Homo sapiens: one gene and its partners. The protein of the gene in region 1 purifies or fractionates together with the protein of each later gene. This does not show direct contact. Each region holds a gene or a part of one and is shown in the gene's direction. Other genes may lie near its edges. The genes, in order: SRP9, MTHFD2L, LYAR and MTHFD2.

Evidence for each region.
Region 2: the proteins of SRP9 (region 1) and MTHFD2L purify together in Homo sapiens (affinity purification with mass spectrometry; 2 studies listed by BioGRID and IntAct, with this or other methods). This does not show direct contact.
Region 3: the proteins of SRP9 (region 1) and LYAR purify together in Homo sapiens (co-immunoprecipitation; 2 studies listed by BioGRID and IntAct, with this or other methods). This does not show direct contact.
Region 4: the proteins of SRP9 (region 1) and MTHFD2 purify together in Homo sapiens (co-immunoprecipitation; 3 studies listed by BioGRID and IntAct, with this or other methods). This does not show direct contact.

What each region holds. Positions count from the first base shown.
Region 1 is NC_000001.11:225,773,713-225,780,851, forward strand, and holds the start of SRP9 (signal recognition particle 9 kDa protein), read left to right. Parts: upstream 1-4,113; 5' UTR 4,114-4,228; coding exon 4,229-4,300; intron 4,301-7,139. UniProt on the Homo sapiens protein: Component of the signal recognition particle (SRP) complex, a ribonucleoprotein complex that mediates the cotranslational targeting of secretory and membrane proteins to the endoplasmic reticulum (ER).
Region 2 is NC_000004.12:74,161,096-74,168,121, forward strand, and holds part of MTHFD2L (bifunctional methylenetetrahydrofolate dehydrogenase/cyclohydrolase 2, mitochondrial), read left to right. Parts: exon of another isoform or gene 1-684; coding exon of another isoform or gene 685-732; exon of another isoform or gene 733-1,158; intron 1,159-7,026. UniProt on the Homo sapiens protein: Bifunctional mitochondrial folate-interconverting enzyme that has both NAD/NADP-dependent methylenetetrahydrofolate dehydrogenase and methenyltetrahydrofolate cyclohydrolase activities.
Region 3 is NC_000004.12:4,280,138-4,287,163, reverse strand, and holds part of LYAR (cell growth-regulating nucleolar protein), read left to right. Parts: intron 1-591; 5' UTR 592-645; intron 646-3,368; 5' UTR 3,369-3,421; coding exon 3,422-3,543; intron 3,544-5,266; coding exon 5,267-5,381; intron 5,382-7,026. UniProt on the Homo sapiens protein: Plays a role in the maintenance of the appropriate processing of 47S/45S pre-rRNA to 32S/30S pre-rRNAs and their subsequent processing to produce 18S and 28S rRNAs. Also acts at the level of transcription regulation.
Region 4 is NC_000002.12:74,201,589-74,208,614, forward strand, and holds part of MTHFD2 (bifunctional methylenetetrahydrofolate dehydrogenase/cyclohydrolase, mitochondrial isoform A precursor), read left to right. Parts: intron 1-4,116; coding exon 4,117-4,301; intron 4,302-6,115; coding exon 6,116-6,238; intron 6,239-6,980; coding exon 6,981-7,026. UniProt on the Homo sapiens protein: Although its dehydrogenase activity is NAD-specific, it can also utilize NADP at a reduced efficiency.

The sequences.
Region 1 (7,139 bases):
GATGTCTGCTGGAGTGGGTAATATAATAGTCAGCTGGTGAACCCATGAAAGCAACTTTGGGGTGAGAGGGTAGATACAGTGGAAATGGGATGGGAAATGGGATCAGAAATGGGATCAGGAATGGGAGGCAAAGACATGAACACAATCGCGGGAGGTGGTGAACATAAGGAAAAGTGCAAGGGCTTTTGGTTTTGACCCTGCACCCAGGCTCTGCTTTACCGATCTAGCTTCTGTATTTCTACTAGTTACACTTTCTAAAAATCAAAATTAATCCTGTCACTTCCGGTTATGATTAACATCCACTGGCTTTTGCCATTTGCTGGACAATCCGGAGCAAAGTCTGGGGCCAATCTGTTTAGTGTCACTTATTTTTCAGGTTTGGTTTCTTCATCACCTGTAAAGGAGAGTGGCACAGGACTATAATCCCTTGTCCGAAATCCTTGAGGCCACCCGTATTTCAGAATTCACAGCCTTTTGGATCCTAGAAAGGTGATACAGTGCACATGTGGTATATTACATAATACCACCAGCAGGGTCTGTGCCCCACCCTGGAACCAAACACACCAAGTGAAACAAATAAAGACTAAGCAACCTTACTTGAGGTCAGGTCATTTTCTACTAATGGAGTTACCAAGATACTTTTGTTTTCCAGAGCTTTTCAGATTTTTGGAATTGTAATAAGGCTCACTGACCACCCTGGCAGAGTTGTTTGAAAGCTCAAATAAGATATGTGTGTGAAAATGAAGCAGAAAGGATAACCACAAAGGGTACAGAGGCCCTGATCTTCTTGACTGGGAATGAAAGGAATTTTTCCTTTTCTGACATTGTGCATGTGTGAGCAATTTATAAAGGACACTCTCTGATAGCCTTTCAGAAGCCACAGCAGGAAAGGAATAACCTAGTTTAAAGGATGCATCCAGCAGCCATAAAAAAAAAAAAAGAATGAAATCATGTCCTTTGTAGCAACATGGATAGAGCTGAAGGCCATTATCCTGTCAACGAACGTAGAAACAGAAAACCAGATACAGCATGCTCTCACTTATAAGTGGGAGCTAAACAATGGGCACTCATGTGGCTTGGCTCTGTGTCCCCACCCAAATCTCATGTTGAACTCTAATTCCCAGTGTTGGGGGAGGGACCTGGTGGGAGGTGATTGGATCATGGGGGTGGATTTCCCCCTTGCTGTTCTTGTGATAGTGAGTGAGTTCTCACAAGATCTAGTTGTTTAAAATTGTGTAGCACTTCCCCCTTCTCTCTCTCTCTCTCCTGCTGCCACGTGAAGAAGTGCTGGCTTCCAAGCACTTGATTTGGCCCTTCTGCCAGGATTGTTAAGTTTCCTGAGGCCTCCCCAGTCATGCCTCCTGTACAGCCTGCAGAACTGTGAGTTCAATTAAACCTCTTTTCTTCATAAATTACCCAGTCTCAGGTAGTTCTTTATAACAGTATGAGAATGGACGAATACGGGTACACATCAACATAAAGATGGAAATAATGGACACTGGTGACTCCAAAAGGGGGAGGGTGGGAAGATGGAAAGGGTTAAAAAGGTACCAATTGGGTACAATGCTCACTATTTGGGTGATGGGTACACTAGAAACCTAATGCCCACCAGTATGCAATATACCCATGTAACAAACATGCACATGTACCCCCGAACCTAAAATTAAATTTTTAAAAAAAGAATGCATCCTAGTGTGACTGGGGACATTTGCATAATCAAGGGCAATTCCCATAACTTCTTCCTTATCTTGATTTCTCTGCCTCTGTAGGGGCTGAGGCTGGGCTAAGCTTGGAGATGCTGGAACTCACAGTGATGGGGACCCTCACAATGGAGATCTGTTCTTTACTGTCATTCTCTCCATAACTGTGAGCTCTATGAGGCAGGGACTGGGCCTGTCTTGTTCACTGCTGGGTCTCTAATGCCTAGCCCAGCTCCTGGTGTTTGTCCAGGGTGGACACTTGTTTTACTTTTTGCTGAATTGAATTGAAACTGATCTCTTATGTTCCTTGTGACAGAAGGCAAAGTTGGCATTGTCTTAACTTCCATTGTTTTCATCTTCAGGGAAAAACCCCTACACCTGGGGGTCATTCTGCCCAACTCTGCCCTCTCTGCCTCTGCTCATTGCTCTTTATAGCTTCCCTCAACACACACACACACACACACACACACACACACGTGTCTCATTAAATGAGGATTTGGGTCCCTGGCTCATAGCCTTCTCCTTCATCTTATTCCTTTTCTTACTCATAGAAGACTTTGACTTTGTGTGGACAACCCAACTATAAATCCAGCCTCACCAGGGACTATTGCTACTCTAAAATGTTAAACCCCAATATCCAATCTGACTAAAACTTATTTCCTGCTATATTGAATTCAGATTTCCTTTAATCCTGGTTCCTTAACTTCTCTCTTTTGACTCAATTAATTACCAGCTATCTAGCATGGATCCCATAATTTATCATTTCAATCATTCTCTTGCCAGTACCACCTACAACATTCTTGACCCTTTGTTCTTCTTCCTCATGTACCCTATAAATCCCTAATATCTGTCTTTTCCAGTCCAAAATCCAAGCTTCTGGGTGTTGCTGGAGACAGACCCTAATTGGGGCTATTCCCAGATATGATCTCCAGTTTCAGCTTTTTACTCTACTTGACATATTGCTTTTGAGTTTCTTTTTTTGTTGTTGTTGTTGTTGTTGTTTTAGAGACAGAGTCTTGCTCTGTTGCCCAGGCTGGAGTGCAGTGATATGCGATCTTGGCTCACTACATCCTCCATCTCCTGGGTTCAAGAGATTCTCCTACCTCAGCCTCCCGAGTAGAGTAGCTGGGATTACAGGCACCCACGACCAAGCCCAACTAATTTTTTTATTTTTAGTAGAGATGGGGTTTCACGATGTTGACCAGGGTGGTCTTGAACTCCTGACTTCAAGTGATCTGCCCACCTCAGCCTCCCAGAGTGCTGGGATTGCAGGTGTGCACCACCGCTTCCCACCTGTTTTTTTCTAATAGGCTTCCTTATTCATTTCTCACAATGGCTTTTCCAAACCTTCTCCTCAAGGATCCAAACCCATCCTTGCTTCCTCAAAGATCCAAAACCACCCTTCCTATTTACGAAGGTGGTCTCCTGTCTTAGGTGACAAGAAAATGTACCTTCTTGCCCTCGTATCTACATGCTCACCTATACCCTCACCCGACTTTTCCCTCCTCCTCACCCCATCAAAGGCAATAATGCACCTGTTTTTATTCATCTGGGCCTTTGGTCTTCCCCTTCATATTTCCCGAGACCTCGCTTTCTTCTTTCTCTTGTATTTTTTATTTTTCTATCTCTTATGTGTCCTTCTCTAAAAGTTATAAACATGCACAAAATCTTTCCATCTCAAAATATAATACCCTTTACCTGGTGTCCCCTGCAGGCCATCTTCTTTATTTATTTACTTTTGCGCCAGCGTCTTCCTCTGAAGCCCAGGCTGGGTGCGTAGCGCGATCATGGCTCACTGCAGCCTCGGACTCCCGGGCTCAAGCGATCCTCCTGCTTGGAGGATCAGATTTTTTATCCTTGCAGAAGTGATAATATGGCTTCTTCCTCATCTCCTAAACACCAGTCATCTGACATACACTGCAGATCTAAAATGGGCCTACGTGTTCTGCCCTTCCTTGCCTACCTGTTGAGCTTGCACCGCTTCTGTGAGTCTCCCCCCACCCACAAGAGATCCTTCTTCCTTCGCGCTCCACTAACCCGACATAAATGTTTATCATATAAAGTTTTCCGTTGCACTCTTGTGTTTATGTCTCCTGGCTTCTTCACCAAGCTGTGTGACAGCTGGGCCCTGTCGCCTCCTTCCTCGTATATGCAGCGACTATCGCAGAGCCGCTTAATCTTTGTTGAAGGCAGCTGCGGTTCAGCCCTGAGGGCCACGGGACGGACGCCACTCATTCAGCCCTACCGGGGGCGCTGTGGCAGCCGGCATTGGTTGCCGTGCCCTCCGCTTGTCTCGCTCAGCTCTCGAGCCACACGCCCTGGGCTCCGCCCACTCCCTGACAACATCCCTCCTGCCCATTGGGCGAGCATGGACGGGGCTGTCCAATGGAGCGAGGCGTTGGTGCGAGGAGGCGCCGCCATCTTGGGGCTGCTGGGACTCGCGTCGGTTGGCGACTCCCGGACGTAGGTAGTTTGTTGGGCCGGGTTCTGAGGCCTTGCTTCTCTTTACTTTTCCACTCTAGGCCACGATGCCGCAGTACCAGACCTGGGAGGAGTTCAGCCGCGCTGCCGAGAAGCTTTACCTCGCTGACCCTATGAAGGTAAATCGCTGGCGGGGCCGCTGCTTTGGGCCCCAGCCCAGGATGTCTTCCCGCCATCCACTCGGCCCCTGGAGCTTCCCCAGCGCTCCCAGGAGGTGCTGGGAATGAACACAAATGGACCCTGCCAAGTTAATGTTCTGCTCTCTCGTCCCCTTCTTCCCTGATCTAGCGGCCCAGTGAGGCCCTGAAGCTGGCAACAGCCAGGTTCATCTCAGCCCTAAACATTTCTGCAATCGATCTTCCCGCCCCAGTCCCTCAGCTTCCTTTATGGCTTCGGTTGTTTTACGAGTCCCTGAAGCCAGGGCTCCTCCCCCTGCAGCTTCCTGTCCTTTGTCTTGGTTCACTTTTCCTGTACCGCCTAGGCGGTAAGGGTACCTCATGTATATAAAACTGATGATGTTTTTTCTACTACCGCTCAGACATTCTTGAAAGATTCCAATTTGGAAGCATCTGTACCCCCCAGAATATTGGTTCTTAGTATTTTGGGAGTCACAGGCTTTGGGACCATAAGAATAATATTTGCACCTTTCCTCAGAAAAATGGTATAAGTAAATGTATAAGTAAATGTTTGCAAACAATTTTAAGGGATTCATGGACCTCTGAAATACATTCTTAGCCCCCACAAAAATTATAATGGAGGTGGATGTCAGAGGTTAGCTCATTATTAAAAAGCAAAGGAGTCCAAGTGATGGGAGTTTAGCATTCGGGTCTTACTTTTCGTCTCTTGAGGTTTTGGTTATTTTATTGTCATGTCTAAGAATTATTTGAAGCATCTTCGTGTTAATTAAAAGTTCTGCTTCTTTTTAGAACTCAGCATATTGAAGGGATTTTATACTGAAAACCTCAGACCTGGTTATGTATGATGCTTCTTTTGTTTTGTGTTTGTTGTAACTCAGTTATCTCTTTTATGCTGCATTCATTTCCCACTCTCGTGTTACTGACCCCAAGTTAAATTAGGTTCTGTGGGAGACACAAAGGTGAATGAGATTCCGTTCAACCCTTAAGGAGCTGGTATTATTGGAGGGTATTATAGATCCAGTGTATTGTGACTGTATCCCTCGGAGAAGAAAGAAAATTAAAAGCAGATAAAATCTCGGAAAACCGGGGCTCAGGATCTTTTTTTTTTTTTTTCAATAGTTTTATTTTTTTTGAGACGAAATCTCGCACTGTCGCCCGGACTGGAGTGCAATGGCTCAATCTCAGCTCGCTGCAACCTCCACTTCCTGGGTTCAAACGGTTCTCCTGCCTCAGCTTCCCGAGTAGCTAGGTTTACAGGCGCCTGCCACCACACCTGGCTAATTTTTTGTATTTTTAATAGAGGCGGGGTTTCACCATCTTGGCCAGGCTGGTCTGGAACTCCTGACCTCGTGATCCACCCGCGTTGGCCTCCCAAAGTGTTGGGATTACAGGTGTGAGCCACTGCGCCCAGCCCAGGGCTCAGGATTTACTGTGTGAAACTATTGATGATCATTAAGTAATATGAATTATGTTTTAAGTGTATGCAGTGAGCTGGTAACCTGTAACTCCAATGCCACATACAGTTTATAGTGCATATAAGTTTAAAGTGTGCAGCAAGAAATGTTGATAATTATGATTAAAAATAGTATTAGACCCACAGAAAGACCTAGCTAAGTAACAAGCTGTAAAACATACTTCTATTTTTTACAATAAAATGATACAATAATAAATGATGGAAATTGTATTTTTTAAATTGAGTAATTTGTTTATAACACTGGTGACTTCTGGTTGCTTCATTTGGTTAGCTTCCCTTGTTGGCAGGGTCATTTGTTTCTTCATTCAGACAATGCTACTCTGAGACCACACAGGACTTTTATCCAGAAGTACCCACAGTATAAACTAAAAATACTTGAGACAACAGTAAAGAATATATAAATTCACATCAAGAGTAACTGTACTGTAAGAATGTGATGGCAGTGGTAGGGAAAATGAAAATAATTAGAGCATCACTGTGAGCAAAGCATGTCTAGAATAGACAAGAAAGAGAATATTTCACCTCTTACCCAGTCAGAAAATTGCAGTTGGCACAGGCTGGAGTGCAGTGGCACAAATCACAGTTCGCTGCACCATTGAACTGGGCTCGAGTGATCCTCCCACCTCAGCCTCCTGAGTAGCTGAGACTACAGACATGCCACCATGCCTGCCTAATTTTTTTTTTTTTTTTTTTTTTTTTTAAAGACGGGGCTCTTGCTTTGTTGCCCAGGTTGGTCTTAAATCCTTGCCTCAGGTGATTCTCCTGCCTCAGCTTCCCAAGTAGCTGGGATTACAGACACAAGCCATGGCGCCTGGCTTGACTGATATGTTGAGAGGGGAGAGGATGAGTGTAGAGGAAGAGCTTAACAGTTTTTTTTGTTTGTTTGTTTTCCAAGATGGAGTTTTGTTCTTGTTGCCCAGGCTGGAGGGCAGTGGCGCCATCTTGGCTCACTGCAACCTCCGCCTCTACGTGACAGGCATTTTACATATGTTTATATGTTACAGGCATTTAATATATATTTATGTGTGTTTACATAGATTTATACATAATATATGAACAATTACAGCAACCCATCAAAGTATATAAATGAATGATTTTATATCTGTTAAGTGATATACCTAGTTTCTTGAGAGATTAAGATGAAATTTGGACCCAGATCTTTGAACCCCAAGTCCATTCTCTTTCTGCTAGGGCTAAAGAACAAATTTTGTCAGGTCTCTGGAATCTGTTTTCCAAAATTCTCTGTCTTCTCTCCGCAACACATTTAACCTGTTGATTATACCCAGTATCTTTTTACCACTCTGTCTTGTATTGCTGTAATTGAAGATGGCATTACCACTGGATTAT
Region 2 (7,026 bases), on another chromosome or scaffold:
TCTTTATGGAAGTTTCACCTTTCTTTGTGTCGCACTGGCATCGGCTGTATAATTTTTGCAGCTAGACCACATTTTAAAAAAATCTACATTTTTGGAACTAGTAAAAGATACTTATTTGTGTTATTTAAGTATTCACGTCTTTTACCGTGGGTAGTTAAGTTTAATAATTTAAAAAGACACATTTTATCAGTAACAATGTTCATTTTATTTTTCAGACTCTTCCCTCTACTACTTACTCTGTATTTCTGTCTCTTCTAATGACTAGGAAAGGCAGTTTCTCAAAATCATCTTCTATTTAGTTGGCAAATGTGATAATGTGGGTAGTGTTCCTACCTTCCTGCTGTATGTGTTCTACTGAAATGAGATATAATAGCCATCTGGCTACAATTTTGATTTCTAAGAAGTTCTTATGTCATTTTAAATTCAAAAACTAAGTGTTTCAACATTTGGTCTCTCATATCTTAAGTTTTATTTTCTTTGTTCCAGCTGTTCAGAGATAGTGTGTTCTAATATCTCCACAATCAAGATTTTTGACTAAAATGGATCAGTACATGAAAAAGAGGGACTAGTATTAATTTTAGATCTTGTTAGTTAATCATGGTCTTACTAATAATTTGGCAAGTTCTTTAATGAGCCAAATCTTTGTATTTCAAATGCCTTGAAGTTGTTATTCTTTCCTATTAGTACCCTGATGGGAGGATGAAAACAGCAGAAAGGAGCAGCACCAGATGATCTTTTCATGGGCACGTACTCTTTCAAGGAATCCCATGGAGCTCAGTGAAATTACACTTTGGCTTAGAGATAATTAAGTTGTGGAAGGAGGTTTAAGAGAGGAGCTTAGGTGAAATTTGAGCTGTAAATGAGTATGCTAAATTAAAGAAATGATTAGTAATAAATGAGATTTGCTATTAAGAAATTCACTTTGGATCTGAGACAACATTTTACATACAATGTAGAAAACTTTATGGTCAGAACAGAACACAGTCTGAACCTAAATTAACAGTAGTGTTAAAGAATTCAGGGCGGGATATTATCCAAGAAGGCCTAGCCAGCTGCTCCACTTAATGTTACATCACAAGTGGTTTCTGTGTTGCTATTGTTTTTATTAGCATTTCAATGACTGTGTCATATTACATTAAATCAATTGGCTCTAACTTACCTAACCATCTTGCTGCTTTTTATTGTCTAGTTCTTGGAAAATATGTAATAATTTACTCTCAGATTGAGGTCATGTCCTTGTCAATGTCATACCAACCAGGTTTGTTCACTGCATCATCTGAACGCTATGTAGGTTTCTATAATTAGGCTCATTAGAGTGTTCCTAGATCCAAAGACTATCTAAAGATCTAAAGATTCATAATTCTAAAGTGAGGGTGTGTGTATAGTTTACAACAGATGTTCTCTCCCCACTTTTTTTTTTTTTTTTTTTTGCTGTTTGTGATTAACTGGAACTGCAATGAATGCCATCATGCTTTTAAGGAATTCAGTTGTATTGTTGAAAAATACAATTTTCTTAATATCTAAGGAGCTCTTAGTCAGTGGTAAGCACTTTGCTGAGATTTTGCATATACAGTATGTCCTTCGATCCTCACAACAACTAAAGGAAGTAGATAGACACTATTACTATTCCCAGTTAACAGATTGAGAAATTGAGGCTTAAAGAAATTAAACTTGTCAAGTTGACACAGTAAATACATGGTGAAGACAAGGCTTGAACCCACATCATCTTTCCGGTGTTCTTCTCTACAAGCAGTTTATAATTATTGACTTATCTTACTTTTTCTTCTTTTTGAAACATTTATTAATATTAAATCTCATACAACTTTTGTGAATCTAGAAAGCTAATTTTGCATGTAAATTTTAAAATTATTTTGTTAGATTCCCTCAGTTTGAGATGTTCTTAACCTGGGACCTTATGGATAGAATTCAGAGGATCCATAAACTTGGATTGGAGGTTACTAACTTCTGATAAATTGAGCATTTTTTTTTTTCCATTGTTAGTGTTGGCAACAAATACATAATATCATCAGTACATGTGACTTGCTAATATAATTTACAGATATTTCAGTATCACAAAGTTGAGGCAGATACCACAAAACATCATCTGCACATCACTATTTTGTTATGGTAGTTAGACCTACCACTAGATCCTGTTATTTAATACTTTTAAAAAAAAGCATTTGATAATATTTCAGTAAAACTGGTTTTCCTTGTAATCTGTATTTTATATTGAATGTTTAAAAGGATTGTTCTGAGAAAGAGTCCACAGGTTTCAGCAGATAGGCCAAGAGCTTTTGTGGCACAAAGCTTAGCATCTAAGGTTCTTTCTGACAAAGTTAGTTTGAAAACAATGGATATTGTTTAGTACAGAGTCAGAAAGTTAACTAGTTAAAAAACTGGATACGAAGAAGAGTCATATATAATGAAAAGGTATTTTACTTTTTATTGATTTGCAGATGTAATTTCTAGTAAAATTACTTCAAGATGTGAATAGGGTACTTGGGGTATGAAACAAATTTTTTTAAAGAGGTCATAAACTTAACACTTGCAGGTATTCATTTATTTTAATAACACACTTCAAAAGACTCCCTATACTGGTGATTGGTTTTATTCCCTATGGAATTTTGCCCTGTTTTTGGGGGGTTTCATTTCTATTGTACAAACTCAAGACATCGAAGATATGCCCTAAGATATAAAGCAATTAAACTGTATGTTAGGGCCTGGGTAGAGCTTGGAATTGTTAATCATTCTATTAGGATTTTTCGTCTTTTTTTGTTTGTTTGTTTTGTTTTTTGTTTGAGGCAGAGTCTTGCTCTGTCACCCAGGCTGGAGTGCAATAGCACGATCTTGGCTCACTGCAAACTCTGCCTCCCGGGTTCATGCCATTCTCCTGCCTCAGTCTCCCAAGTAGCTGGGACTACAGGCGCCCGCCACCACGCCCGGCTAATTTTTTGTATTTTTAGTAGGGACGGGGTTTCACCGTGTTAGCCAGGATGCGTCTTGATCTCCTGACTTCGTGATCCGCCCGCCTCAGCCTCCCAAAGTGCTGGGATTACAGGCGTGAGCCACCATGCCTGGCCAGGTTTTTTCAACATTATAGAGATAAAATGGTTCATTGCAGCTCTAGTTGAAGTCGTGAATAAAGATGAGATTGAAACTAAGATATGGATTTGCCAAGTATACGAATTAAATAAACTCTTGATCTTGACTAGGTTTTATTTGTTGGTAAGCTACTTTTTTGTGGAAGAGTATTTTGATACATAGAAATAATCCTCCCCCTTTGTTATTTTGCTCTAGTTTATTAAATAAATCATTTGATTCTAATAAGCGTAGATAAGGTGGTTAGTTTATTTTCTGGAAGTACAAGTAAACAAGCCCATGGAAACAGCACTAAGTGCTGAAGACTTTCTGCTCTCATAATGTTTCTGGTTATCGAAATATGTCTCCATCTGTAATTTAGCAGAAACTAAGAGAAAGAGCCACTTTTGCAAACCAGCCCATGAACTTTTAGCCAAATCCTCTTATGTAATGTAAGGTCAACAAGAGAGTATTCCCATTATATAGATGAAGAAATTGCATGCCGTTGAGAGAAGCTAAGTGACTTGCCTAACTTTATTATTGCTACTAATGGTAACCCAGAGCTCTGATGCTCAGGACTTCTAATTTCAGGTGAGTAGTTTGTACTACATAGTGCTGCCCTGCTACTCACTAGCCACCACCTCCCTTCTTTAATTTTTGCCTCCTGATGAAGCCACATTTCGTGGCTAGCCCAGCAGTAGGCTGGGCTTTTGGAAGGGAGGGCACCTTTTCTTGCCTTTAGGGGAAGGTCATTTCTGCCTTTGTGGGAAACCACCTGAGCAAGTAATGACAGGGCACATCATGTAAACAATATCTAAGGGGTCAAATGGATTTTATTTTTGATATGCATTAATGGCAAGGTCACTATGTAATTTTTTTGGCCAAACTAGCACATTTTTTAGAGTAAAAAGGGGCACGAATGTAATGAAAATTATATATTTGGAATATCTATTGGCTTACAAATATATTAGTGAACTTATAGAATAGTTTCAGACCATTTTCAAAATTAACATTTTAAAAGATAATTTATATCCTTATGTGTTAAAATAAAAATTTATATTACATGAACATTCAGCATGAACAATTATTCCTGGTGCATATTCACATGCTTGAATCAGTTTCTTAGCTGTATCTTTTAACACCTTGATCCTGATAATTTTCTGAAAAAAGTTAATAAGATCTTATGCTTTGTTTATTTTTTTTGAGACAGAGTCTTTCTCTGTCACCCAGGCTGAGTGCAATGGTGTGATCTTGGCTCACTGCAACCTCCGCCTCCTGGGTTCAAGTGATTCTCCTGCCTCAACCTCCCGAGTAGCTGGGACTACAGGTGCATGCCACCACGCCCAGCTAATTTTTCTATTTTTAGTAGAGACGGGGTTTCACCATATTGGTCAGGCTGGTCTTGAACTCCTGACCTCGTGATCCACCCGCCTCGGCCCCTCAAAGTGCTGGAATTACAGGCGTGAGCCACTAGGCCCGGCCCTTGTGCTTAATTTTAAAATTAAATTTTCTGCAATTTTCTTAACAGTTGCAAATAGAATCTTTGCTTTAGACAATGGTTATTTTAGTTTTAAAGGTACTGTCTCTATAGATGCTGAAACACCACATAAACTGCTAAATGGAACAGTCTTAATTCTACATTTTGCACATTGAAATGGGAAGATATTTTAGCCTAAATATTTTCACAGGTGCTATGTTGGTGTATCTTTTCAAAGTACTTTTCTTTGACAAATATTTAGATAAAAGAAATAAGTTGTTTTTGTGTATGATTTTAAAAATAGTTTACCATATTTAGATAGGGGAAAATTAAAGTTTTTCTCAATTGTATTCCAATGTTTTACAAAATGGTAATTTATTCCAGGAAATTTTATTCAACAAAAAATATGAGTTCCATCAGAAGATTATTCTCAGACATTGAACTATTTAAAATTGCTATTATAGATGTATTTATTTACTAATTCTGCTGTATACAAAGTTCCACAAACTAGCTAGCTTGAAACAGCAGAAATCTGTTTTCACACTGGAAACAGTGGAAGGAGGCTGGAAGTCTGAAATCAAAGTATCTGTAGGCCCACACTCTGTCGACTAGCTTCTGGTTATTGCCAGCAGTCCTTGGTGTTCCTAAGGAGTTTGCAGCTGCATAACTCCAGTCTTTGCCTCTGTTGTTAAATGGTTGTCTTCCCTCTCTGTCTTCACTTCCCTTTTTATGTGTCTCTGTGTCTTCTCTTGTAAGGACAGAAATTAAAATTACTTGTGCATTGTTTGAGCTATGATTTTTTAAATTAGTTTACTTCTTCCCTTCCTTTTGAAGAGATAAGGTTTCTGTTTGTAAGCTTTGGTTTCACTGATTACAATTCACTAAAAACTTTAAATCTGAAGGTGTCCCTACTCCCATTTGGTCTGTTTGTTGAATATGTTGATTAATAATGACCAACAACTTTTGAAAAAAATGCAACAAGTGTTGCCCATCCCAGTGCCAGGCCAGCCCCCACAGACACAGCTTGTAGGCCAGTCCTTGCAGACCCAGGCTCTAGGCCTGCACTAATGCCAGGGCAGCATCCAAAGATTCCAGCTGAGCCTCTGCAGACTTAGGCATCAGGTAGAAACTCATGGACCCACACTGTAAGCCTGCCCCAGTACCAGGTCAGCTTCCATTAATTCAGGTCCAAGCCTATCCCCAGGGACCCAAACTCTGCACCCAACCCCATGGTTCTAGGTACCAGGTCTTCCCCTGCAGATCTAGGTACCAGGGCCATTCCAGAGGACCCTGGGCAAGCCTAGTCCCCACAGACTTGGGACCAGACCCATTCCAATGCCAGGCTGGTCCCCATGGACTCAGGCTCAAGACCTACCCCAGTGCCAGGATGGCCCCTATGAACCTAGGCTTCAGGTCTGTATTTGCAGACCAAGGCTCCAGGACTACTCCTATATACCCAGTTGACAGCCCACCCCAGTGGACCCATGCACCGGATTAGCCCCCTGTGAGTTGAAGCATTAGGCCCACCACCTGCTGACCTAGGCATCACCTGCCAACTAATCCAAGGGCTTTAGCAGCAAGCCCACCCATGGGCCATGCCGGATGGCCCATCAAGAATCTCTAGATCCACTGACTGGTGAAGGGCTTTCCCTGCTGAAGCCAGTTTAGAAAGACTGGAATAGGCGCCTACTTCTTCAAGCGATAGACAGCAATGAAAGGCCACAGGCTTGTGAACCATTAGGGAAACCTGGCACCACAAAAAGAACAAAATTAACAATAATTGACATAAAGAAATGGAGAGCTACAGGCTGCCTATCCAGAGAACACAGGTAGACAACTAGACAATATCAGTGATTTAAAATACTACAAAAGGGTAAAAACCAGGTACTGTGGGAGCTCACAGCAGATTCCCAGGGTACAGGGTTGGGAAAACATCACAAGAGTGTTTTATAAGCTGAGACTTGAGCAATGTGTGGGACAGACTTGGCAAAGTGGTTGGAGAGGTGAGAAAGGGAAGGAAGAGTGTTTCAGGCAGAGGGAATATTATATCTGAAGATCTGGAGAGAACATGGTGCAGTTCATGAATTAAAATATGACTGGTGTGTAGTGCGCGACTCACTAAGCACAGTGTTCTTTAACAGTGAGGCTAAAGTAGCTCATGCAGAAGTGTGTAACCCATAGGGGATTGGGATTTTAGTTAACTTTTTCCCCCAATTTCTCAGGTCAGAAATGTTAGAGTCATGTTTGCCTTCTGTTTTTCTTTTTTTCATATCCTACACCCAATCTCAGTAACTCCCAAGGGTTCCACTCTCAAAATAGATTCAGAATCAGACTACTTAGCACCTCCATGGCTACCCCTTTGCCTAACTCCCCATGATCCCTTGTTTGTTATACTACACTAGCTTCTTAGCTGGAGTCTCCACTTCTCCCCTTGATCTCATAGAGTCTATCCTTCATATTTTCACCAGTTA
Region 3 (7,026 bases), on another chromosome or scaffold:
TGGGGAGCCAGGGAAGGAAAAGAGGACTCTATTTAGATCCAGCCCCATGAAAAAACTGCTGTCTTTTTACACTTAGGGCTAGATGTTGAAATCTGTCACATCTGAGCCCGGCAGACTGGGTGTCCTCAAAATCTTAATGCAGTTTTAAGCTTTCATAATTTCAGAAGCATAAATGATCCAAACTTGCCAAAACATCATTTAAAATTTAATTAAGGCCGGGCGCGGTGGCTCACGCCTGTAATCCCAGCACTTTGGGAGGCCGAGGCAGGCGGATCACGAGGTCAGGAGATTGAGACCATCCTGGCTAACACGGTGAAACCCCATCTATCTCTACTAAAAAATACAAAAAATAAGCTGGGCGTGGTGGCGGATGCCTGTAATCCCAGCTACTCGGGAGGCTGAGGCAAGAGAATGGCATGAACCCGGGAGGCGGAGCTTGCAGTGAGCCAAGAATGCACCACTGCACTCCAGCCTGGGCGACAAAGCGAGACTCCTTTCTCAAAAAAAAAAAAAAAAAGTTTAATTAAATTTCCTTCATGCTTATCTAGTCTTGTGGAATTTGAACAATACCGTTTTACTTTTTTGTTTTAGGCAATGTTTGCTGTCTTCCATTGGAGTGACTGAATTTCTACATGACGGCTTTTTGTAAGTTTGTAGTATTTACATTTTTGTTTTAGGCAATGTTTGCTGTCTTCCATTAGAGGGACTGAATTTCCACCTGACGGCTTTTTGTAAGTTTGTAGCATTTACGCTTACGAATATTAAGCCTGCACTAAGACCTGGGACACCCTGTCTGCTGTGCAGTTAGGCTGACTTTGAAGCTTCTGATGGTTTTGAGCTTTTCTTTGAAGCCCAAGCAAGTGTTTATGGCATAAATTACAGGTATTTTCGCCTGGGGCTAGGTTGGGTTTGAGGTGTAATCAAGGTGCTGGACTGTCCTCCAGGCTCTGAATAAAGGAGAGGTAAGCTCCTTACAGACATTAGCTCATTAGCCAAGCAAGTGGACACAGAGCTGTTCCCATTTCATGGCAAGTGTAAAAATCCGGAGGAAGGCAGGAAGAGACAGTTCTGACTTCCTGTGCAATCCACCCATTTGGCCTTAAACAAGTAAAGACCAAATGAAAATGATGTGAGAGTTATTTTTTAGCTGGACATGTAACCAGATTCTAATCACCTTCTGAATTGATATTTAATTACACTGTAGTGTGTAGCCGATCTCCAGAGAGATAGAATGTTTGGCACAGTTACTCTTGAGTATCTTTTTGTCAACATCACTGCTTTCACTGCTTCTTTCAGTCAATATATTTTGTTTCCAGCTTCCTTCCTAGGCCTTTAATTCCTGCTGGGACAGGAATCTCTCAATTCACTCTTAAGCCTTGTCGAAACCTTTCTTCCTCCCATCTCCCACTCCATCCAGAAATAGAATTGTCCTCAGCAACAGAGGTTGGCAAGCTCTAAGCCGTATCTAAGTTTCAGAGACTGTTTTTTGTTGTTGTATCTTATTAGAAAAGTGCTTTAACGTTTTTCAGCAGATAATTTGGCATATCACGGCTGCTTTCACCTTGTGCCTGTGATGACAATCTATTTCTTGGTGACTAATAAGTTATTCCTGCTCTTACACCAAAGTGCACCTCCATGCTCTTTGAGAATGTGATGTTGGCTCTTATTCCAGCCTTTGTTCTCCCTTGTCAGGCAGGATAGCTGCTCTTGTTGCCTGACATGTTGATCATCCCTCTGCCTTTTTTTAGAATGGTAAGCTTTGAGGGAGCTGGGTTGTGGGAAACGTGATTCCAGCTCCCAGGAGCTTGACAATATCACACATCTTTACAGTAAGCAGATGAGAAGATGACAGTTGCTGCAGCACATCGAGGGTAGTCATGTTTTCCTTCCTGAGGATTTGGTGCTAGGTTGTAGCTGACCACATGCTGTCCGTTTACTAACATACACTGATAGTGAGCTGAGGAGCGGGGCCTGGGACCGCGGAATCAGGGGTCTGTGGTTTGTATGTAGCGTAGAAGCTGAGCTGATGTCTGATAGTGTCCCACAGGGCAAGAGGCCTCCACAAGAGACCAGCTGGACCTTTGTGAACCCTGGAGATGCAGCCAGGATGTACATTTCCATTCAAGGCTGAATGGACATGAATAACCTTGGTCGTTGCTTGGGTGTGGCCTCACTGGCAGTGATCCAAAACATGCTGGTGGAGGAGCAACGGTGATTTCATGCATGGGAATTCTCTGCAAACCAAGGGTAGATCATTTGTACTGAAAGCTTGTTGGATGAAGTCCTACCCTGAAGTAAATTGCATCGGTTTACTTGACCCTCACCTTTATTTTCCTAATGAGGAAGAAAGCTCTGGGTTAAACAGTTCTCAGTATTTTTGCTGTAAAACTTATAATGTAAAACAACAATGCTGTTTTAAAATCTAGTGATTAAAAATTATGTAAGTATGGAAAATTACTGTGACTTCTCTAACACTTCTAGACGAATTTGTGTTTTCCTGAGCACGGTAGCATTTCTGTGAAATTTTACAATGATGTTTATGTGCGTGTGCAGACATACTTCTTTTTGGGGCAGTGCTCGGGACACCTGGGTTTGTGAACTCCAGTAATTCAGCACCCAGCAGTTGGGACACCTGGACTTGGTTCCGTTTCTTTCTGACTTGTCTGACAAGCTGCCACATGAAGAAGGCCCCTGTCCATTACAGCTGAGGCGCATGTCCTCATTTTAACCTTTGTAGATATATAGTAATATTGATATGAATGCTTTTAGTGCCATAGAAATTGTGCCCATAGAATTGCCTCTTCTTCACTTTCTAAACTTCACTCAGTTTTCCTCTTGCTGTGTTCTTAGTATATTTGAGGACCTGAAATAGTTTGTAGTGTACACCTAAATTGCAATGCCTTCTATAAGTTTCATATACAGAGAGAGAGTTTAAGGTATTATGGAAAGTAAGATTTAACACCCTCAAAGCTCTTCATCTTGAGAGCCAATCTGCCAGGTTTAAATCCTGGTTCTGTTAACCGTGTATCCTTGGGCAAGTTATGTAATCTCTGTGTCTCAGTTACCTCATATAAATTTTGAACAATAATAGTCCTTCCCTCATAGGGTTACTGCGGGGATTGAATAAGTGAATAAATGTAAAGCCTCTAGAATAGTGCCTGGCACGTGGTAAGGACACAATAAATGTTAGCCATTCTCATTGTTAATGTTAGTTTTACTTATATGAATGGTGGAATTTTATGTAGATTGCTAATCAACTTTGACTCTGTTATTTTCATGTGAAATTATGGTTGAAAAGTTAGGGGCATGAGCCATTTATTGAAATGAGAAGTTTCAGTTTATAATTATAATTGTCTTTTTTTCCTTAGGACAAGACTTAAAACCTGTCTTGGATAGAGAATATTTAGCCATTTACCTAAAAATGGTATTTTTTACATGCAATGCATGTGGTGAATCAGTGAAGAAAATACAAGTGGAAAAGCATGTGTCTGTTTGCAGAAACTGTGAATGCCTTTCTTGCATTGACTGCGGTAAAGATTTCTGGTAAGCTTCACAGAATTCATGTAGATCCATAGTAAATCCAGATCAGTTTTGGAAGCCTTGGCGCCACAAAGCTTGGAAAAATAGTGGCAAATTTGAAGAATGAAATTAAGACTAAAAACTGGTATGTTCCATTGATTAAAACTGGTGTGATTCTTTCAAATGTGCTTTACTAGGCCGGGCGCAGTGGCTCAGGCCTGTAATCCCAGCACTTTGGGAGGCCAAGGTGGGTGGCTCATGAGGTCAGGAGTTGAAGACCAGCCTGGCCAACATAGTGAAACCCTGTCTCTACTAAAAATACAAAAATTAGTCAGGCGTGGTGGTGGGCGCCTGTAATCCCAGCTACTCGGGAGGCTGAGGCAGGAGAATCGCTTGAACCCAGGAGGCAGAGGTTGCGGTGAGCCGAGATTTCACCACTGCACTCCAGCCTGGGCAACAGAGCAAGTTAACCCCTTCTTGGGGGGGAGAAATGTGCTTTACGAAACAATTTGCTTTTTGAGGATATGTTAAAGAAAAGACTAGGGGAAGGGGAATTATGATGATTAGAGTGTTCAGTCAGTTGGTGACACTGGTTGCTATTGCATTGCCACTGTTTACAGACCCAGGGAACTAACTGCGTGGAAGATGGCTCCAGGGGTTTAGAGCCAGTTTCATTAGACCATGGGTATCACATGCCCATCACAGTGGAGAGATGGACTTATGAACCAGAAAGTGAATTTATGAGCTCACAGTGGGGCAGATGACTGGTAGCAGAGGAAACTATGTCCTCCCTAGAAAATCAGAGGTGCTGGTGGAAGTGAGGCTCTTCCTGGCCCCACGGGTGTGTCAGGAGACACTTCCACTGAGGAGGCCTCTGTGAATGTGAGGAGTTAGCGGGGAGGGACAGGACAGATCCTGCCTTAGACACCGGTTCTTCAGGTGGGTCGTTTGCAGAGGGCTCCCCTCTTGAATTTCATGTTGATTCCCCTTCAGCCTCAGAAGGTCCAGGCGAGAAGCTGGCTTCTGGCTGCATCTGCCCCAGTGTCCTCTGAGGCATTCGGATGGTACTGGCTAATACTCTCTTTTAATTCATTCTGGAGCAGTGATTTTTTTTGGAAACTGCTAACCTCTGTTCAGACGTAATCCTAGGAGGAAGCTTGATATATAAAGTAGGTTAAAATTGAGTTTTCATTAGGGGACTTTGCCCTGGACCTTGTCCCCAACATTTCCCTGAAGAACCCCATAGAGCTTTACAAAGATTATATGAGAGAGAATTTAGTTTTCTTTTTTCTCAGGACCCTAAGGGATCCAGAACTGTTGGTAACCTCATGCTGCCATTTTATATCTGTTTTTGATTTATTCTACAACTAATTATTGACTGTCTATTAGACATTGAGATTTTTATAATTTAAAAAAACTACCCTATTGCATAGAACTATTTTCTTGTTTATTCAGTATATGTACACTTATGACTTAAAAAAATACTGCCTATCAATTTAGCTTAAGGTGTTTATAAAAATGGGGGAAAAGTTTGGTGATGGGTTTTATATTGACGACTTTGGAGGAAGGGGGATGTGGTTCTGACCAGGAGGCTGTAAACATAATAAGTGAAATAGATGGGGTGCTTGTGTGATAGACACATGTGAAAATATACAGTGTAGACCACAGAAGATAGTGGCAGCATGCTGGTATTAGCGCCTCCAACTTGGGTATCAGTCTAATGGCAGAACTTTTGATCACTTTAAAGGGGCGATGACTATAAAAACCACGTGAAATGCATAAGTGAAGATCAGAAGTATGGTGGCAAAGGCTATGAAGGTAAAACCCACAAAGGCGACATCAAACAGCAGGCGTGGATTCAGGTAACGTCTCTCTAACTCATTGAGTAGCTTCCTCTGACAGCTTCCGCTTTCTTTGGAAGCCCAAGAGACTAAGAGTAAATGTGTCATCCCTGCAGACAAGCTCTGGAAACCTCATGTCCTAGGATAGACAGGTTGAACTAAAACCTCTTGAAAAAGAATTCTTTGGCTGGGCATGGTGGCTCACGCCTGTAATCCCAGCACTTTGGGAGGCCAAGGCAGGCGAGTCACGAGGTCAGGAGTTCAAGACCTGCCTAGACAACGTGGTGAAACCCCATCTCTACTAAAAATACAAAAAATTAGCCGGGCATAGTGGCGGGTGCCTGTAATCCCAGCTACTCAGGAGGCTGAGGCAGGAGAATCGCTTGAAGCCAGGAGGCAGAGGTTGCAGTGAGCCGAGGTTGTACTGGGTGACAGAGTGAGACTCCGTCTCAAAAAAAAAGAAAAAGAAAAGAAAGAAAAAAAGTTCTTTATTCTTCTAGCTGTTAAAACAGTTGCGGTGCATTATACCTTTAATCCATGTGTTTTGTTAATTTCTTGAAAAAAAAGTTTTAGAATTCTCATTAGCTTTCCCTTGGCTGTAAAACTAAATGGAAGCTTCTAATCTCTCCCTGCTTCTAGTGATAATGGAGCTTTTATAACTCAAGCCATGTTAATCTGTCACATCTGCCAGTCATTAGAATTAGGCAAAATAAAGATACTTTCGTCAATGCAGAGAATTTTCTACTTAACTAAAACAGCATGAAAACATGCACAGTAGAAATGGCAGAAACATTGACTCCCTAATTCACTGGGAAGTATAACTCTCAGAATGCTACTGATCATTTACAGAATAGGTAGCAGGAGGAAGGATTCAGAAAGGAAGGTGGGATAATGAAAAGACGGATGTCATCTATTGAAAATTCTGTGTTTTTCTAAAAACCAATAAAAAGTAATCGTTCCATTTGATAATAGAGTTGGAACGTGAATTTTTCAGACATTAACTAGCTTACTGAATGAGCATACTACTGGGAGGGTATTTCTGTTCACAAAGGACTTACTAGAGCAGATTGAGAAGCTAATGAAATCCTGTTTGCACTGGTGACCAGCAGCCACACTTTTGAGCACTCTCTGTAATTCTCTAAAAACCAGATGACGTTCCTAGACCCTAAGGTTGAGGTGCATGGGTCTGTGAGTTCCGTCTCTGCTGCTGTCACACTCGATGAAATCCTCTGAAGCAGGGGTCAGCAAACTACAGAAACTTATTACAGCTTTGTAATAAGTTTTGAAATCAGAAAATATGAGATCTGCATTTTTGTTGTTCTTTTCAAGATTGTTTTGGCTATTTGGTATCTTTTGAGATTCCCTGTGAGTTTTAGGATGGATTTTTCTGTTTCTGTAAAAACGTATATATACACACACATTGGATTTTGATAGGAATTGTATTGAATCTGTAGATTGCTTGGGTAGTATTAACATCTTAACAACTTTAAGTCTCCCAGTCCATGAGTACGGAATGTTTTTCATTTATTTGTGTCTACTTTAATTTCTTTCAGCAGTGTTTTTTGGTTTTCAGTAAACAAGTCTTTTGCCTCTTCAGTTAAGTTTATTCCTGATTATTCTTTTTGATGCTGTTGCAAATGGAATTGTTTTCTTAATTTCTCTTTCT
Region 4 (7,026 bases), on another chromosome or scaffold:
TTGGCCTCCCAAAATGCTGGGATTACAAGGCCTGTGCCACCATGCCCAGCCCTGGGAATTTTTTCTAAACACATCTGTGAATGCATTTAATTCTGGGATAAATGTTAGCTAATATAGTTACAATTTTGGATTCCCCGTGGGACTTAGCTGACTCTCCATTTCCCTGTTTATTTTGGGGTAGCAGTTAATCTGCCCCTTGGCAAAAGAGATGATGCTAAATTAGTTAATGACTCACTCCCAAGGCTGTATTTCACATTTTGCAGAGTTGTGGGAAGCAGAGGAGGGCTGACAGTTATACTATGAAAGATATTCATTGCATGTGACTTTGTTTTTGGTTCTTGTTACTCTTTGACTGTTTTTCTTTCTTTTCTTTTTTTTTTTTTAAGCAAATTGGCATAACATCCAGAACCTGCTTTTGGAAGCAAAGTTTGGGACTTGGAACACTGGCTTTTCCCAGAACCCTGTGTCCTTAACTTCAGTATATGATTTTATCTGAATGTGCTAATACCATTTTCTCTAAGTTTACTGCTTTCAAAAGAAACTTTTTATGAGGTGCAAGCTAAGTCATTCTCACTGACTAGATATACATATAGTGTATATACTTATATATATCTCCTTATGTGTAAGTGTATCTATTTTAAGGATACATGTGTATGTGTGTGTATATATACATATATATATAAAACCAAGAGAAAAGAGTAAGAAATTAGTTTTATTGAACATATATGCCTGGCACATTATATATGTTTGTTATTTCATTCAACATAAATGACTGTTCTAAGCCGTTTTAAAGTAGTCTTTCACTCTGTAGTGTTCCAGGATTAGGAATGTATTTTTGGCCTGCGGTGGGCATTCCAGGTACTAATACAAATCAGGAATGAGGAATGTTGCCAGGTGTATTTGTATCAGCAAAACCCCCCTATTTTAATTTTTTTTTTTTGAGATGGAGTCTGACTCTGTTGCCCAGGCTGGAGTGCAGTGGCACGATCTCCGCTCACGGCAGTCTCTGCTCACTGCAACCTCTGCCTCCCGGGTTCAATCGATTCTCCTGCCTCAGCCTCCCAAGTAGCTGGGTCTACAGGTGCGTGCCACCATGCCCGGCTAATTTTTTGTATTTTTAGTAGAGACGGGGTTTCACCATATGAGCCAGGATGGTCTCAATCTCCTGACCTCATGATCTGCCTACCTTGGCTTCCCGAAGTGTTGGGATTACAGATGTGAGCCACCATGCCCGGCCTGCAAAACCCTTTTAATGAAGTCCTCTTCGACTCTAATTCTGAAATGGAATTGTGAATATTAATATGTTTTCAATTTCTTCATATACCATGGGTATAATTAAATGCTATTATATGTTGTGCCATGCTAGTATTATATAAAATCAGGGTAAAAGTATTTGATTTGCTGTAAGATTGTAACTTTTTTCTTTTTTTGAGATGGAGTCTTGCCCTGTTACACAGTCTGGAGTGCAGTGGCGTGATCTTGGCTCACTGCAACCTATGCCTCCTGGGTTCGAGATATTCTCCTACCTCAGCTCCCGAGTAGCTGAGATTACAATTACAGGGTCCTGCCACCATGCCTGGCAAATTTTTGTATTTTTAGTAGAGGCGGGGTTTTGCCATGTTGGCCAGGCTGGTCTCAAACCCCTGACCTCAAGTGATCTGCCCACCTTGGCCTCCCAAAATGCTAGGATTACAGGCATGAGCCACCGTGCCTGGCCAGATTATAATAATTTAATACTTCACAAGATGCAATACAGATTAAGATAAAGTTTATATATAAGATTATTGCATTATATCTAAGATGTTGAGATTTGGTTTAAAGTTGGTATTTAATCATAATGCAATAAAAAACACTTATTGAAGGCCTAAAGATTGTGAAAGCTTTAAAATCCCATTTAAATTAGCAGTTACTGGCCGGGTGCAGTGGTGGGTGCCTGTATTCTCAGCTATGGAGGCAAAAGCTGGAGAATTGCATGAACTTGGGAGGCTGCAGTGAGCTGAGATTGCTCCAGCCTGGGCAACAGAGCAAGACTCTGTCTCAAAAAAAATAAATAAATAAATTAGCAGTTATCTTGAGAATTAATTTTATCTGACCCTACAGGATATTCAGTACCTTGATGTTAGGTTTTAGAATATAAGAGGAGATTACTTCATTGGTCTTGAGGTTAGAGCAGTCTTCATGACACCAAGGACAGAGATCTAAAGGGAAAGGCTTTTTTTAATGGGATCATTTTACTTAAGGAAGAGATGCTCATCTAGTTTAGTTTAGTTTAGTTTAGTTTAGTTTAGTTTAGTTTAGTTTAGTTTAGTTTAGTTTAGTTAGTTTAGTTTAGTTTAGTTTTTTGAGATGCAGTCTTTCTCTGTCGCCCAGGCTAGAGTGCAGTGGGGTGATATCAGCTCACTGTAACCTCTGCCTCCTGGGTTCAAGCAATTCTCCTGCCTCAGCCTCCTGAGTAGCTGGGATTATAGGCGCGCACCACCATGCCTGGCTAATTTTTGTATTTTTAGCAGAGACGGGGTTTTGCCATGTTGACCAGGCTGGTCTGGAACTCCTGACCTCAAGCAATCCACCCTCCTCGGCCTCCTAAAGTGCTGGGATTACAGGCTTGAGCTACCACGCTGGGCCAGATGCTCATCTTTAAGTAATGGGCACTTTACTGTAAGGACATGTGTGAAAATAGGAAAACTGGGACTCTTCCACATTTGGGTTTCATGGAACCCAGGAAGAGTTGCATAAGCAGTTCTCTTTGGGAAGAGACAGCCTTTCGGGCAGCTGAACATGGTTTTGGGAACTGGAGGTTCTTCTAGATCCTGATTTTTCTTCTTGCTCCCCACCTCAGCAACAGTTTTCTGATTTCTTGCCCTGTTGTCTCCCATTGGTGTGACTATTATTCTGCCTATTCTTTCTGTCTTTGTTCTGTGGTTCTAGTTTGAACTGCCTCAGGGACGAGCTCTTACTGGTTCAACTAACTCTCACTGCTCTGTTGAGCTAAGCTTTTGCGCCAACTGGACCACTGGCCAGCCTAGAGATTGTTGCCCTTGGCGTCACATACTCACTCCTGGTCTGTCAGCTTTGGATGATATGGTGGGGTCCCTGGGAAGAGCACATTGCCAACTGTGAGAAGGAGCTTCCTCCAGTCCCCTGCCCTGCCCCTATTCTTACCAGGAAAGTCTTCCCCAGAAGGGACTGTGGGGAGTGGTGGTCATTTTGATGTTTGACCTGTCCAGTATGTTGTTTGTTTGTTTGTTTATTTTTGAGACGGAGTCTAGCTCTGTCACCGAGGCTGGAGTGCAGTGGCACAATCTCAGCTCACCGCAACCTCTGCCTCCTGGTTTCAAGTGATTCTCCTGCCTCAGCCACCTGAGTAGCTGGGATTACAGGAGCCCACCACTACGCCCAGCTAATTTTTGTATTTTTAGTAGAGACAGGGTTTCATGTGTTGGCCAGGCTGGTCTCGAACTCCTTACCTTGTGATCTGCCCTCCTCGGCCTCCCAAAGTGCTGGGATTACAAACGTGAGCCATCGTGCCCGGCCTATATTGTTTGTTTATTCAACTACAGAATATAATTTATCGATTTAAACCACCATAAAAATGAAGTCAGTTGACTGGGAAATGATTTGAAATACATGCCTGGCTGCTAACAACAGGGACAAAACACGAACTACAAATGGCATATAAGCAGATAAGAAAAACTATTTAACCTCATGGTGAGGGGTCAAACAATTGCAAATTAAAACTGTAAAACACTTAGTAATGATCAGGGCGCAGGGTGGTGTAGCAGTTAAGAGCCCAGACTGATGTGAGACTCAGCTTGACCAAGCGCTGTCAGTCACTTAAACTCCCTGAGCTTCAAATTAATGATAATAATGATTTCTATCAACTTTATCCCCCTCCATATGTAGCTGGATATATTCATTCATTTATTTATTTATTTAGCAGAGACAGGGTTTTGCCATGTTGCCCAGGCCAGTCTCAAACTCCTGGGCTCAAGCCATCCTCCTGCCCCGGCCTCCCGAAGTGCTGGGATTACAGGCATAAGCCACTACACCTGGCAGAGTTTTAGTTTTTATAAAAATTCAAGTTATTTGGTTTTGTGACTCTGTTGCCTTCTGCAGAAATGAAGCTGTTGTCATTTCTGGAAGGAAACTGGCCCAGCAGATCAAGCAGGAAGTGCGGCAGGAGGTAGAAGAGTGGGTGGCCTCAGGCAACAAACGGCCACACCTGAGTGTGATCCTGGTTGGCGAGAATCCTGCAAGTCACTCCTATGTCCTCAACAAAACCAGGGCAGCTGCAGTTGTGGGTATGTGTCCTTCTGAGACCTCGACTGCGGTTCAGTTGAGGTTTATATGAGGCAAAGTCCATTCTAATTTATGATTTCTTTTTTCTGATTAGGAAACCCAAGCAGAGGAGGCTAATGTGATTGAACTGTATCCCAAAACTTTGTCATAGGAAATCAGACTATATCTTTCGGGGTTTATACAGTAGGACAGGAGATACTGGTTGGTATTCTCTGTGGCTTCTGGAAAGAATATAAGCTACATTCTGTTCTTAGTCTTTATATTTGATAGGTGACCCTGAATGCATTTTACATTTGCTTTCCTTGAGCAATAATGGGTCTCCAGTGGAGGTGTTTGAGTGTTTGCAGCTTAAAGCCTTAGAGGCTTAGGGGGCATGATTGAGCAATACAGTATTAGGTGACCTCAGTGATGAGGTCAGGAACACAGTCGTAGATTTGAAGGAAATGACTCTGACTTCTGGGAAATAGCTTTCAAGTTCTTCACCGATTGGTTCTAAAGCCAAACATGCAGTTTAGAAGCAGTTCAGGTCTGGATGATGGGGTTTGTGTTCTAGGTCTCACGGTACCACAGATTACTGTGTCTCTGTGGACAAGAGGTGGGTGGGCAGGCTCAGATATGCCTCTGCCTGCCCATCTGTGGGCCTGTGGTCTGAGCAGCAGGTGGCCTTTCCTTCGAAGGGCTGTGAAACCACTCGCGTGGCTGGGTGGGGTTACTGGCCTGTAAGCCTGTGGTTTTCTCTGTTCTTTATTATTGAGGAGTGAGGCCTCCTGCTCTTTTAATTGAAAGCCTTTAGAAACCTCTAGATAATGGCAAGCCATGGCATTTTGTTTTGTTTTTTGAGACGGCATTTCGCTCTTGTTGCCCAGGCTGGAGTGCAACGGCGTGATCTCGGCTCTCCGCAACCTCCGCCTCCCGGGTTCAAGTAATTCTCCTGCCTCAGCCTACCGAGTAGCTGGGATTATAGGCATGGGCCACCATGCCTGGCGAATTTTGTATTTTTAGTAGAGATGGGGTTTCTCCATGTTGGTCAGGCTGGTGTCGAACTCCCGACCTTAGGTGATCCACCTGCCTCAGGTGATCTGCGCCTGCCTCAGCCTCCCAAAGTGCTGGGATTACAGGCGTGAGCCACTGTGCCTGGCCAAGCCATGGCATTTTAAGACATTGGGAGGTAGTGTGGTGCAGAAAAAAAGAACATGGATTTTGGAACCAGAAAGACTGGCTGTATTATTAGCTCGCTTATTTATTTATTTATTTATTTAGAGACGGAGTCTCGCTCTGTTGCGCAGGCTGGAATGCAGTGGTGCGATCTCAGCTCACTGCAACCCCCGCCTCCCAGGTTCAAGCGATTCTCCTGCCTCAGCCTCCCAAGTAGCTGGGACTACAGGCGCGTTCCACCAAGCCTGGCTAATTTTTTGTATTTTTAGTAGAGACGGGTTTTCACCGTGTTAGCCAGGATGGTCTCCATCTCCTGACCTCGTGATCCGCTGGCCTTGGCCTCCCAAAGTGCTGGGATTACAGGCGTGAGCTACTGTGCCTGGCCTAGCTCGCTTATTTTTAAACCTCTCTGAGCCTCAGTCTGTCTGTAAAATAAGGTTAATGAAGATTGCATAGAATGAGGTATACAGGATGTGTTAAGCTAGTATTCTCTGGTGTATATATTTGTGAAGTTACTTTTTTAGGTTCCTTGAGCTACTTCAGCTTTTAGGGATGAGTGTGATGATACAAAACCCGTATGGTAGCCAAGTATGGTAGGCAACATAGCAGTGCTCATTAAATGCCTCAAAAATTTTTTTAACCTCAAAATTTCTTATAATAGGAATCAACAGTGAGACAATTATGAAACCAGCTTCAATTTCAGAGGAAGAATTGTTGAATTTAATCAATAAACTGAATAATGATGATAATGTAGATGGCCTCCTTGTTCAGTTGCCTCTTCCAGGTGAGTTTTGGACTCCATTTAACATGATTGCTGCTGCTTCTGCTCCTTTCCCTCTCCCTCCCTCTCTCTCTCCCTCCCCATCCCCCTCCTCCTCCCTCTCCTTTCCTTGTCTCACTCTGTCACCCAGGCTAGAGTGCAATGGTACAATCATAGCTCATTGCATGCTCAAGCTCCTGGGTTCAAGGGATCCTCCTGCCTTAGCCTCCCAAATAGCTAGGACTATAGGCATGTCCACCATGCCCAGCTAATTTTTACATTTTTCCTAGAAATGAAAGTCTGTCTGTGTTGCCTGGGCTGGTCTTGGACTCTGTGCTTCCCAAAGTGCTGGGATTACAGGCATGAACTACCATGCCCTACCTAAAATGGTTTCTGAGGGGTAAAAAGGCCTTGTTACTTTATACACCTGGTTCTTCATGTGGATTTGGCTTAAAGGCAAAATAAACTCAAAAGAGTGAATATTTTATTAGAAATGGGACAGACCAACTCAGAATACCAATTACGCCTTGATTTAGTATTGTGGTCTTGATACAAAGGACAGTGGAGGGAAGCAGCTGTGATAGACGATATTGGCTTTGCTATTGGTGTTTGGCTTTGCTTATGCGAGTTCCTTCCATGCAGATGAAGTACATCTCAGAGGCAAGCTGTAGAAGAATAGATTTCCTTGCGAAGCAGATAAGCTGGAGTCAGGCAGTGCTGACTATGCGGTGGTGATTTAAGGCAACTGTGCCAATTTCTTTTTCAGAGCATATTGATGAGAGAAGGATCTGCAATGCTGTTTCTCCAGACAA